Regions from separate parts of the Homo sapiens genome. Here all the other regions are reported to be linked to region 2. Evidence: microRNA targets listed by miRTarBase, many of them from high-throughput screens and not tested one by one. Region 2 holds a microRNA gene; each other region holds the end of a gene's coding sequence.
Evidence for each region. The annotated mature microRNA hsa-miR-6515-5p reads UUGGAGGGUGUGGAAGACAUC and lies in region 2 at 1,946-1,966, opposite strand. An mRNA with a match to its seed (bases 2 to 7 or 8) in the 3' UTR can be bound and repressed. Matches are read on the target gene's strand: a 7mer-m8 pairs with bases 2 to 8, a 7mer-A1 pairs with bases 2 to 7 and ends in A, and an 8mer does both.

Region 1: the mRNA of ATG13 is a reported target of hsa-miR-6515-5p. Seed matches in the 3' UTR shown: 7mer-A1 at 2,578-2,584.
Region 3: the mRNA of GPRIN3 is a reported target of hsa-miR-6515-5p. Seed matches in the 3' UTR shown: 7mer-A1 at 2,063-2,069.

Annotation. Positions count from the first base shown.
Region 1 is chr11:46,671,848-46,675,847 of GRCh38, forward strand. ATG13 (autophagy related 13) reads left to right here. Exons shown (of 19, transcript NM_001346311.2): 19 at 408-2,671. The coding sequence ends at 485. Among named protein-coding and RNA genes, the nearest start is that of ARHGAP1, 27 kb to the right of the region's middle.
Region 2 is chr19:12,937,757-12,942,451 of GRCh38, reverse strand. It overlaps MIR6515 (microRNA 6515), which reads right to left and starts at 1,968; the gene lies at 1,912-1,968. It overlaps CALR (calreticulin), which reads right to left and starts at 3,843. Exons shown (of 9, transcript NM_004343.4): 1 at 3,682-3,843; 2 at 3,217-3,318; 3 at 2,821-3,024; 4 at 2,305-2,399; 5 at 2,000-2,209; 6 at 1,798-1,911; 7 at 1,565-1,708. The coding sequence starts at 3,772. RefSeq lists enhancers at 1,396-2,023, 1,360-2,559, 3,452-3,501, 2,796-3,545, 4,172-4,221 and 1 more and a cis regulatory region at 3,603-4,241.
Region 3 is chr4:89,244,504-89,248,503 of GRCh38, reverse strand. GPRIN3 (GPRIN family member 3) reads left to right here. Exons shown (of 2, transcript NM_198281.3): 2 at 1-4,000. The coding sequence ends at 724. Among named protein-coding and RNA genes, the nearest start is that of GPRIN3, 61 kb to the left of the region's middle.

The DNA.
Region 1 (4,000 bases), not on the chromosome of region 2:
GGGTCCCGATGCCCAGCAAAGGGTGTGAAGAAATCTTTTGTAAACTGTTTAATTTGTAGAGCTGTACACTTGGTATTTTATTCTAGTGTCAGTCAGATCTGTGCCAGGGATATTTCATGTTTAATTTCTGAATCATCTTGCTCTTGTGGTCCTTTTCTCTTTTGTTAAGTGTGTGGCCCACTTGGACTCCCAAGGCCGTTCCATTAATCCTCCAGCCCCTGCAAAGCCCTGATGCATATACCCCTCCCTACCCTGTGCCTACGCAGCTGCCCTGCGTTCTCCCACTTGCTCGGCCCAGCTAGGGCTGAGCTTCGTCTTGCTTGCTGCCTCCCCTCTTCGGGACTGGGCTGGCTGCCTCCTCAAGGCCCTGCCTGAATAAACGGCTCTTCCCTCTCTTTCCGGTACAGGACTCATTACCAGAGAAGCTGGCTGTGCATGAGAAGAATGTCCGCGAGTTTGATGCCTTTGTGGAAACCCTGCAGTAAAAGTATCCTTGAGTCCCAGCAGCACCCCCTTTTTGTGGCCCCAGGGCATAAGCAGCCTCCCATGCATCAGCTGCTCCCACCCCTCATCCTGCTCTGAGCCAGGTGGAAGGGAGGCTGGCTTCTCCCATGGGGACCCAGAAGTCCCTACTCTTGGACCTCCTGGAGACTCCGTGGCGGCAGTCAAGCCCAGTGCCCAGTTGGAGAAGACTCACGTGCTGGCCTTGGAGATGGGAAGAACCTTCGTACGAAAAAGCCCTCAGCAGGGCCATCTGTGTGCCCTGCCCATCACCAACTGCTTCCCAAGGGTGTCATCCTGTTCCTCCTGCTGCCGGCCTCCTGCCTGGGCCTGCCTTGCAGCTGGCCCCTTCCCTGCCTGCTGTCACCATCCACTGTTTGACATTCCAGCTGGTGGCCAAGAGATTGGTGTGGAGTCGCAGAAAGAGGAAGGAGACAGTGCCAGGAGGAAGAAGGAAGGAGTCCCTTAGCTCTCTTCATTGTCCCCTTTACTTCCTGCTATCTTCTTCTCCTCTTCTTCTCTCTCTTGCCTCTATGCCTGTATTTCTGGCAATATGACAGGCCTGCCTACCCAAGATCAGAACTCCAAAACCACTCCCACCCCTGAAGGTCGGGAGGGTCTGAGCAGCCCTGGTGGCTGCCTGTGCTCAGGTCCTCAGCTCCATGGGAAATAAAAATGGCACCCTGAATCTCTAGGATTTTGTCACTTGGAGTCACAGCAAAGTTCTCTTCCTCTTGTCCCCCCGTTGCTGCTCCTTGGTTATAGAACATGGTAAATATTTATTACTTTCAGAGAAACCAGATATTTTATAGAGGAAATATGTTTGAGGTGAGTTGTTTTTCACTTGGAGAAGGCGGAGGGCTCTTCCTGGGACGGAGACCTCCTCCTCCGGAGGTTATTGAGAATCCGGGCTGCTGCTTTGAGGATCTTCCCACCATACAGACAGCGAGATCCAAGAAGAGGGCTGGCCGGGGGCAAAGTCACCTCCCAGTGTGGCTGCACTGGAACTGACTAAAGGCTTTACCTTGGATAGTTGCGTATTCCTGGTGAGAGCCTTACATCTCCCACAGTTTCTGCAGAGTGACTGACTCCATTCTGGCAGCCCAGGAAGTCCTGGGTGCTAAATGTGATGGCCACATGTAGTGGTTAGGGGATGTTGTGTGTGTCCCCCAACTGCCTGGGTACTTGTTCCTGATCCCTGGGGCTGTCCTGTGGAGCTTTTCCTCCTGCTTGGGCCTAGCTACCATCTCCCTCTAATCCCAGGTTCTCTACACTGCCCTGGGGTTTACCAGCTGGATTGGCTTCTGGTTGAGAAATCAAAGCTGGGCGTATGATTGACTTAACCCTTCAGGTATTGTTACTTGAATAAGTCAAGTGCCTAGCCTCACCCACCTATGATCTGTCCTTTCCCAGCCTCGCTGGTAGTCCTGGTCAAGGAGATCTAGGTCTACTCCATTCCTCCTGGCCCACCTGGGGCATTCACTGGCAGCAGCTGTGCTTCAGTGGAGCAGGTGGTTCTCAGCTGCTTGTTAGTATACTGCATGTGACACTGTTCCCACATACAAGGCTGACTTCTGAGGATTGGAGCAGGCTCTGGCGGGGACCAGAGCTCTGCGTGCTGCTGCTGCCACCAAGAAGTGTTAGCAGAAGCAGTAGCAGCCAACTGGCCCTCCTGACTTTGGCCCAGAGCACATGCGTGGCTTGCTGAACCCAGGCTCAGGTTTATCCCCAAGGCCCCAGCTTTGAGAAGGGGGAAGGCCCCTGGTAAGTTATTGATGCCCCCATATTTCAGCTACTGCTCTCTTTCCAAGGCCTTGCATGGAAAGGCCTAGCCATTGTCTGAGGCAGCAATCTTTGGCATCTACAGGTGGCAGCAGCCTTTCACCAGGGCTCCATCTGTGAAGAGTCTCAGCCATGACTTTGAGCTGAGCTTGGGAGAAGTAAAGCAACTGTTAAGGCCAGCCCTTGCCCCTCAGACCTGCCATGAAAGGAATGAGCCCTAGACTGACTCCTGCAGCACCCCCGGGACAGGCTGGGACCAGCTGTTTGTCTCCAGGTGTCAGAGTCCCTCCTCCTCCTCCAACCTCTCCAACCTACTTTGTTTGGAAATACCGAGCTACACTTCAAAATGTATTCAAGGGATTTCCAATAAATTTTTTTCTGTACTTTACAGCCTCCTGTCCTGTAGGTTGTCTGAAGACCTCGTAACCCCTTCCCCACCCCTGCCCCAGTGCAGGTCTGGGAAAGGGGAGAGTGGTGCGTTGTGAAGCGCAGAAAGACCTCAAGTGTCTGGGCAAGCCTGTTTTGAGTCGGGTGTGGCCTCTTAGGGGCTGTATACCCTGGGGTTTCCTGGGTCAGGAAACTTCTTAGTATTTCTCTTTCCCTGGTCCCCTATCAGGGGCTTGAATTTGAATATTCAGTTGGAGAATGCATTTAAAATACACCCATAGTAAAATCTCCATAAAATGCAGGCCACCGTTATCAGCTCTTTATTGCTCTTACATAACAACTCACCCTGGAGGGAAAAACAACAGTGCAAGGCAGGGAGTGCAGGGCTCCCCAAGCCATCTGGGGGATTTGTGGCTGAGCAAGCAGAAGAGAAGTAGCAGGAAGTTAAAGGTCCATGCAAGTTTGTTAGCTGCCTTGATCTGACTGGCGGTGCTTGAGCAGCCAGGAAGAGTAGAAGAGCCCCGGGGTATGCGTCCTGTCTGGCTCCTGGGGCCTGGGGCTGCAGGCCTCTCAACCCGGCCAGGGCCAGCCCCGCCTCCTAATTCTCCTAGTTTGTGACCATAGTTAGGGGAGGGAGCTGATTGGTGGAGACAACATCCCGGAGGTAGGGATGGTTCTAGAGGCAAAAGAGAACTGACAGAACTGGACAGCTGCTGTCTGGGTTGCTTCCCCACCCGCCTTCAGGCTGAAGCTAGGCCCAGGATTAAAAGGGCTGGTTAGAAAAGTCCAAATCCAGCCTATTCCTGGAGCCAGGAGCTCCTGATTATTAGTAAACCAGGTGACACTGATCATGTGGCCAGCCAGGACAGTTGCCCAATACCTGAGTCAGAAGTGACGAAAAGGCTGTTCTGGTGTTCCCCCTTCAATCAGGAACCCCCAATAACAAAGTTTTCAGTTGCCCCATGCCCAGCAATGGTGTCCTACCTCTTTAAAGCATCTCCCTACACTCTACCCCTGGAGGCCATCGTTGTTAAGGCCTTGGTAAATTGGCATTTGAGTCACTCAGCAGAGGCCCTGCCAGGAGCCCAACCCAAGTAAACAGTTTCCTCGCTCCTGTTTCCCTGGGTCACTGCCTCTCTATTCCAGCCACTCAGCTCTAGCTGAGCAGATCCAGAGAGAGAGGAGGCCCCCAGTGCCTGGAGGAAGGCCACCATTGTGGAATGGGACTTGCTTCTTGGGGCTGAGGCCCAATGTTTGTAATCACCATCTGTAACCACAGCCTGATCCTGCAGCTCTGGCCCTGCTCCCCCAGCCCGGACAAGCAAGGAGG
Region 2 (4,695 bases):
CCTACTACATGCCAGAACTGTCTTGGGCACAGAAGGTATTTCAGTGACCAAAACAGACAAAAATTCAGTCCCAGCATTTTTTTTTTTTTTTGGGACAGAGTCTCGCTATCACCCAGGCTGGAGTGCAATGGCATGATCTCAGCTCACTGCAAGCTCCGCCTCCCGGGTTCACGTCATCCTTTTGCCTCAGCCTCCCGAGTAGCTGGGACTACAGGCGCCCACCACCACACCTGGCAAATTTTTTGTATTTTTACTAGAGATGGGGTTTCATTCACCATGTTAGCCAGGATGGTCTCCATCTCCTGACCTTGTGATCCACCCGCCTTGGCCTCCCAAAGTGCTGGGATTACAGGTGTGAGCCACTGTGTCCGGCCAAGTCCCAACTTTTTTTGAGAGGGTCTCACTCTGTCACCGAGGCTGGAGTGCAGTGACATAATCATGGCTCACTGCAGCCTCGATGCCCCAGGCTCAAGTGATCATCCTTCTTCCTTGGTAGTTGGGACTACAGGTATGCATGACATCTCGCCAATTTTTAAAGTTTTTGTAGAGGCTAGGCATGGTGGCTAACCCTTGTAATCCCAGCACTTTGGGAGGCCGAGGCGGGCAGATGACCTGAGGCCAGGAGTTCGAGACCAACCTGGGCAACATGAAGCCCTGTCTCTACAAAAAGGCTGGGTGAGGTGGCTCACGCCTGTAATCCCAGCACTTTGGGAGGCCAAGGTGGGTGGTTCATGAGGTCAGGAGATGGAGACCATCCTGGCTAACACGGTGAAACCATGTCTGTACTAAAAAAAAAAATACAAAAAAATTAGCCAGGCATGGTGGGGGGTGCCTGTAGTCCCAGTTACTCGGGACCCTGAGGCAGAAGAATGGAGTGAACCTGGGGGGTCGTGCGGAGCTTGCAGTGAGCAGAGATCACACCACTGCACTCCAGCCTGGGCGACAGAGCAAGGCACGGTCTCAAAAAAAAAAAAAAAAAAAAAAATTAGCCTGGCATCCATAGTAGCACATGCCTGTAATCCCAGCTACTCCGGAGGCTGAGGCAGGAGAATCGCTTGAAACCAGGAGACGGAGGGCGCAGTGAGCTGAGATCGTGCCATTGCACTCCAGCCTCAGCAACAAGAGTGAAACTCTGTCTCAAAAAAAAAAATTTTTTTTGTAGAGATAGGGTCTCCTCGCTGTGTTGCCAAGCTAGGTTGAGTTGTGTAACTCCTGGCCTCAAGCAATCCTCTGTCTCAGCCTCCCAAAGTACCGTGATTGTAAGGGTGAGCCACTGTGCCCAGCCCCAGCTAACTAACTGGGTTACCTGACCACCTTCTAGGTCTTTGGGGGTAAAGAAGTTGATTTGCATAAAAGTACTTGGGGAAGTACTTGGTGCACAGCAAGTATAACCTTAAAGGGGTTGCTGTGAGGACTTCACAGGGACAGACCAGGAAGTACTGTTTACAAGAAGTACCATTTTTGAGTCAGACTCACCTGGGGTGCCTACCCTGTCCCTTTCCTCTTGGGTGATCTTATGCACTTGAGGTACCCCAGGGATCCTCCTTTTTCCTCCAAGTCTCACCTGCCAGAGGTCCAGGCCCAGCACGCCAAAGTTATCATAGGCATAGATACTGGGATCGGGAGAATACTCGGGGTTGTCAATTTCTGGGTGGATCCAAGTGCCCTTGTAATCTGGGTTGTCGATCTGCCGGGGCTTCCACTCACCCTGCAGAAGGGAGAAGGAAACCGAAGGGTGAGTAAGGTTGGTGCACTCCCCACTGTGAGCCCCAGCCCTGCTCAGAGCCCCAAACTCACCTTGTACTCAGGGTTCTGAATCACTGGGGGTTCCCACTCTCCGTCCATCTCTTCATCCCAGTCCTCGGGCTTCTTAGCATCAGGGTCAGGGATATGCTCGGGCTTGTCCCAGTCCTGGGGGGTAGATGAAGAGATCAGAGTTGGCCCAGATGTCTTCCACACCCTCCAATGTGGAGAGCAGAGCCCCTGCCCAAACACCAACCTCAGGCTTGGAGTCTGTGGGATCATCGATCTTGGCCCGCTCATCCCAGTCTTCCGGTTTTGAAGCATCAGGATCCTTTATCTTCTTGGGTGGCAGGAAGTCCCAATCGTCTTCCAAGGAGCCGGACTCCACCTGGCTGTTGTCAATCTTCACCTCATAGGTGTTGTCTGGCCGCACAATCAGTGTGTACAGGTGTGTAAACTCATCATCCTGAAGAAGGAAGAAGGTGAGCGGGGGCCACCCCCCAATGAGGCTGACCTCTGAATCTCCCCATGACAGCCATTTGCCACCACCCCCAGGCACACCTTGCAACGGATGTCCTTGTTGATCAGCACGTTCTTGCCCTTGTAGTTGAAGATGACATGAACCTTCTTGGTGCCAGGGCCACAGATGTCGGGACCTAGGTGTGAAGCAGATCCAGTTAAGAGTCAGAGACTACCCATCATCTCGAGGCTCTCACCCCTCTTTATAAAAGGAAGACCTGGTTCTTCAACTCGGGTCTGTCAAGGCTGAGAAGAGAAACTCAGACCCTGATTCTGTCCTGAATGGGCTGTGGGTGGAGCCTTAAGTTTAAAGGAGAAAAAAAAAAAATCAGTGCTCTAGAACTCAAAATCCTCATTAGTAAGATTGGGAAATAACTATATACAAACACGCAAATTAAATTAACAGCCTAGATCTGCGATCATAATGCAATAAATTGTTGCTGGGACTTATTCTTTTAGCTCCCCTTCCAAAAAAAATCATTATTAAGAAAGTCAATGGGGTCTGGGTCTCCCTCTAACTAATGGGACAGAGATCAGCACCAGGAAGCAGGCCCTCACCAAACATGATGTTGTATTCTGAGTCTCCGTGCATGTCTGTCTGGTCCAAACTATTAGGAAACAGCTTCACATAGCCGCCCCCACAGTCGATGTTCTGCTCATGTTTCACCGTGAACTGCACCACCAGCGTCTGGCCTTTGTTGCTGAAAGGCTCGAAACTGGCCGACAGAGCATAAAAGCGTGCATCCTGGCTTGTCTGCAAACCTGAGACGGGACGGTAGTGAGGTCACCGTTGGGCCTTGACTCGCGAGGACCCTCGACTTAGAGAATAGAGAAGACTCCCCCACTTCCTCCACCTGTCCTCCTCCAAGGGGACTGTCCCGGCTGTGTGTGTACAGACAAGGACTTCTGCCAGGAAGTCCTCCCGGATCTGAGCACCCACTCCTAGGCTCTTACCTTTATCTTTCTCCTCGTCACCGTAGAACTTGCCGGAACTGAGAACGAATTTGCCAAAATCTGACTTGTGTTTGGATTCGATCCAGCGGGAAGTCCACCCGTCTAAGTGGGGGATTAGAGGGGTAGGTCAGAGCGGCTGTGCTAATCCCCCCCCACACCAAACATCTGCCGAGAGCCACAAGCTGCTGGGGACAGGAAAGGAGATCCCCGACACTCCCCATTCCAACCTCTAGTTTGACACGTCGGGTGCCTTCAGAGATCCTCGGGCTAACCCTAACTCCCGCCGCGGGAGGCCGCTACGCCCTCCGCGCTCCCCAGGGACGCAGAAGAGAAATCGCCCGCGGCTCTAGTCCCGGGAGGCCACCGTGTTGGACCTCTAAACGGTAATTACGGGCGACAACGCAGATCCAGGATCGGGGGCCGGCCGCGTCGTCGGGGCGGCCTCGAGGCGGGACCAGGCGTTACCTCCGTCCAGAAACTGCTCCTTGAAGTAGACGGCAGGCTCGGCGACGGCCAGGCCGAGGAGGCCGAGCAGCAGCGGCACGGATAGCAGCATGGCGGGCCGAGGGGGCGGCAACGCGCGGGCCCTTTAAAACGACCCTCCGGCAGCGGCTCTGCAGTACGGACGGACGCCGCCGCCCGCCTTGCACTTTTATACCCACCCGCCTCTCAAACCAACCTGACCCAGCCCTTGGGCCCGCCCCTGCCACTTTGTCATTGGTCTATGCCCATGGCCGTCTTTTTCCATTGGACCTTCGTCGGTTCACTATGTTAGGCTGCGCCTCGGAACGCTGGGTTCCCAGATGGCCGATTTCTATTGGCCTCACCACCGACCAATGATGGTCGACCACGCGTGGGGGGGACGCCCACTGGTGGGGTGGGGGCCGCGAGCACCTCAGGCCAGGTCATGTGACCAGACCTGAACCCAACCCCGCCCTCGTCCGCGCGCGTCGTTGCCCATCTGGGCGTTTAAAGAAACCGCGGGAGCGCAGCTGTCTCCACGCGGGACCGGGACCCTGCCCTCAGCTTCTCTCCCTCCCATTCCCTCTAGGTGGAGGGGCTGGGCAAGGCTTTCTTAGCCAGCTCTTATCTTGCATTTGAGAACCAGCACCCCACTGCTGCTCCCCCACCCCTGCCTGGGATGGGAGAGAGCTCACGGATTGGGGCCCTTGGGGCTTCGCTGCACCCCGGTGCTACAGTCACGCGGGCCGGTGGGAAGAATGCCAGCCCTCTCCTCCTTCTGCCCCTAGAGCCCTGGCAGCCTATCGGACTGCTGCTGTGTGACCGGGGCAAGTCACTTAAGCTCTCTGAAGTGACAGACGTTCCTGAGCAGACAGAGGGGGCGACCCTGGCCAGATGCTACCCAGCAGAAATGCTTTTAACGTTTTTAAAGCTGTCCTGGGACAAGAGGGGAGGAAGGCTTAACGATGTGACTGTGACTTCTGGAGTGGGGATAGGGTTATTACCCAGATTGCAGCC
Region 3 (4,000 bases), not on the chromosome of region 2:
GGAAAAGAAGCCTGCATCTCCTCAGGTAGTAAAAGAAAAAGAGTCTACTGGCACTGATACCTCGGATGCCAAAACCCTACTGCTCAATCCTAAATCCCAAGAAAGTGGAGGCACAGAATCAGCTGCTAATCCTACACCCTCCCCAATTAGGAAGAACCAGGAGAGCACCTTAGAAGAAAACAGACAGACCAAGACAGCCACCAGCCTGAGCCTGCCATCTGATCCCATGGGTGACTCCAGCCCAGGTTCTGGCAAGAAGACCCCATCTCGCTCCGTCAAAGCCAGCCCACGCAGGCCCAGCCGCGTCAGCGAGTTCCTCAAGGAGCAAAAGTTAAATGTGACAGCAGCTGCTGCTCAGGTAGGACTCACTCCAGGAGATAAGAAAAAGCAGCTTGGCGCAGACTCCAAGCTCCAGCTGAAACAGTCCAAGCGTGTCAGGGACGTCGTGTGGGATGAGCAGGGAATGACCTGGGAAGTGTATGGTGCATCCTTGGACGCAGAGTCCCTGGGAATCGCGATCCAGAACCATTTGCAAAGACAAATCAGGGAACATGAGAAATTAATCAAAACTCAAAATAGCCAGACCCGGAGATCCATTTCCTCAGATACTTCTTCAAATAAGAAGCTCAGAGGAAGGCAGCACAGTGTTTTCCAGTCCATGCTGCAGAACTTCCGACGCCCCAACTGCTGCGTCCGTCCTGCCCCGTCTTCTGTGTTAGATTGAAAGGGAGTATTTATGGGAGTTTGTGTATAAATTTACGGTATTCACATGCGTCCCTCTATGTCAAAGCTTGCTTAGTTTTTTGCTGCAAGACTAGGAAGAAAAAGCAAGTATTCACTATAGGAAATTGCTATTAAAAATTGTTAGATCCTTTGACCTGGAGCTCTATAAACAAAAATGTCATTTCAATTTGAAAGAAGGAACAAGAAAAGAGAAACAAGCTTCACTGAAGGTTTGCAACCTTAACAAATTGAAAATAATACTCACTGGGTTTTTAAAAATATGATGTTGTTCATAGAAATAGCATTATTGTATCATTATACATGTATTATTTTGTATAACTGCCTCAATTTATCACACAGTAGTAGTTCCATTAAAATCCCTGCTTCATATTGAAAGTAGCAAAAACACTATTGGCGAAAACATTGTTATAATTTCTAGTCTTATTGCAGTAAGAATGCTGTAACCACACAAATTATAAATAGGTGATAAGAACCATAATGAAAAAAATGAGAACATATTTGATTCATTCCTAGGCCAGATAACATTAAATAAAAACAGTTAAATGTGTAAAATATGAAATATGAATTAATGTTTATAAACATCTGCAGACAACTCTTTTTATAAACCTTCTTATTGCTGTTAATAAATATAAGAAAGTTATATTAGGAACATTAGCTAAGCTTTTGACTATGAAAACTGCCTACATTAAACATGGATTTATATAGACCCATTTTCCTGCACTGAAGGCAAGGCGCATCTCTGTGATTCTGACCAGACATATTCATATTTTCTTACCCTAGAGGAAGTACATGGGACTGAATTCTTGAAAAGAGCCATCAAATTAGGGATAATACTAAATTGATACTGTGCAGGTGTTCTCCAGTGATATTCTACTGAGAATGCTAAGGTTCTGGTCAGGAACTATAAATAGCAGATTACCAAACACTGCTTTTTCTGTGATGATAAAAGCCTCATAAGTAACAAAAACAATGTTTAATTTAGACTCCTGTAAACAGGATGCAATTAGTGATTTTTTTTAATTGGGTTCAGTAACTTCCAGTAACAAATGTAGTCAACACCAAATTAGAATGTGAGCTTCCTTACAATTTTTGTACATAGACTACTATCATCTAATTGCTTAAATATATATGCTGGAGTAAAAAGGTAACTTCTGCAAACTTATTGATTTTAAGAGAAATACCCATAATATCCTTCAAACCCAATGAAAGAAGAGGCCTTTACGAAAACATGGCTTGTGATTTGGGTGGATTATACTTCCTGGGACCTTGGCCCTCCCGTGTCTCCAGAAGAGACGTGTGTCCCGAGACACATGAGTATCCTCCAAGGCACTGGCCTGGATGAGCAGCATCGCCTTGAGAATTGGGGTAGTGTGGAAAGGAAGAATGAACAACGGCCCTGGGAAGCCTTCCCTTCCTGCAGATATTGTTGGGGGAGTGCTGGTCTCCATTTTGCGTTTAGAAAACCAGACTTAGATGCTGGAGGGGCACCGGTTGTCTTCTTTGAACTCATTCCCCGTAATGAGCTAGAAAAGAGTACCTAACCATAGGTATTCTCTCTAGAGACTCATGTGTCCCGTGGGTACAGTCAATTCACAGTATCTGTTCTGGCTTTTTTCACTTTAATTCTGTTCTGCACATTCTGAACATATGCAGGAAAAAAAATCATTCCTGAACTTAGCACAAGCTACACTCGACACAACCTAAATTAGTAAAAAGCCTTTGATTTATTTTGAAGCAATTTAACTGTAGACAAAGCTTGCATATATGGAACAGTATTCTCAGAGCCTGAGAGTTGTTACAGTTGTTCTATTTGGAAATTAGAAGGAATTTTTTAATAAGGCACATTTTTCAGTTTCTTACCCATTGGTGTCTATTAAGAATACTATGTAATGTTGAAATTTCCATCAAATTACCAAGCAAATTACTATTAATGATTAGAGATTTAGCCTAACACTCTCTCTTTGGGCCTTAAATACCCATTTGTAGTTGTGTTCGTGTCACTTCTGTCTCAGATGCCTCTGCCAGGACATAATCTCTCTAACTCTTGCTAGCTGGCTTCTCCCTCCCACATGGGCATACATGCTGTGTATACACAGAGTACAGCCTGTGTACACAGTAGCAGCTGTCAACAGGGCCTACTCCAGATGGGTGGCCCCAGGTAATCCTCTGCTGTAAAGTGGCTAGAACAGGCTGTCCCTGCATTAAAATAGGTGAGAATAAGGAATTTCGCCTCTGATAATAATATTTATTTTCATGACTTTAGAGTAACCACATGATTTGTAAACAGTTAAATGAAGCAGAGGCCTGAGAGAGTTGTTGGCATTTGTCTCACATTAAATACATTAAAATTGCTAGATTTGCTATTGTGGTTATGTCTATCAAAACTTTAAGAAAATTTGTTTAATGTACTGAGTTTAACTGATTTTCTTTGGTGCTGGGACCAAATTCTTCACTTCTACAACACTCAAGAGATTGTCACAAAATATTACAAAAATATTGTTTGTTTTGTGGCTCATTAAACCCTATATAACTAACAGCTTTTAAGGACATTAACAGAAATATATCTTCAGATGGATAAATAAGATAGGGACCTATTCAAGACAGCAGCATTTTTGTATTGTGATACCTCCCCTAAGTTACTCTCACAATAAAACCTTATTTGAGAATTTTCCTTCACTTCAATCTGTGACATAGCATTAGGCATTTAGTATACCTTATTTGTGAAACCTAAGGTTCATTCAACAGATGAAGCTGCAAAACAGTTTTCTTGGTAGACTCTTGGAACTTGCTCAGTTTTTTCCTTACTTTACCTGCATGACACACATTGGGTTGAAAGTTGTTTGGTTTTACCCTTCATTTCTCTTAGATATGATTTGGTTCTTTTTCATGCATTATATTTTTGAAATATATGGAGGAAATATTTTATTGAATCAAGAAATAGAAAATATTCCTTAAACCAGTAGTAAAAAGGTGAGTTAGAACTCCATGTCTGGAAGACAATTCAACATTTAAAATATTAAGATGCTATACCACTTAACAAGTGAATACTAAAATTTTTAATTTAAAGATTGATTGTTCTGTTTTTATGACCATGAGAAAAATGTGACAGCTTCAGCTGTCATATGTTTATCTTGAATGCTTTTCTAATTATGTATTTCTGGATTATTGACTTTGAATGCCACAGACCAACTACTTTACATAGAGTAAAATATTGATTAACCTTTGTGCTTTGGGTCACTGGCAAAAGTTGAACATC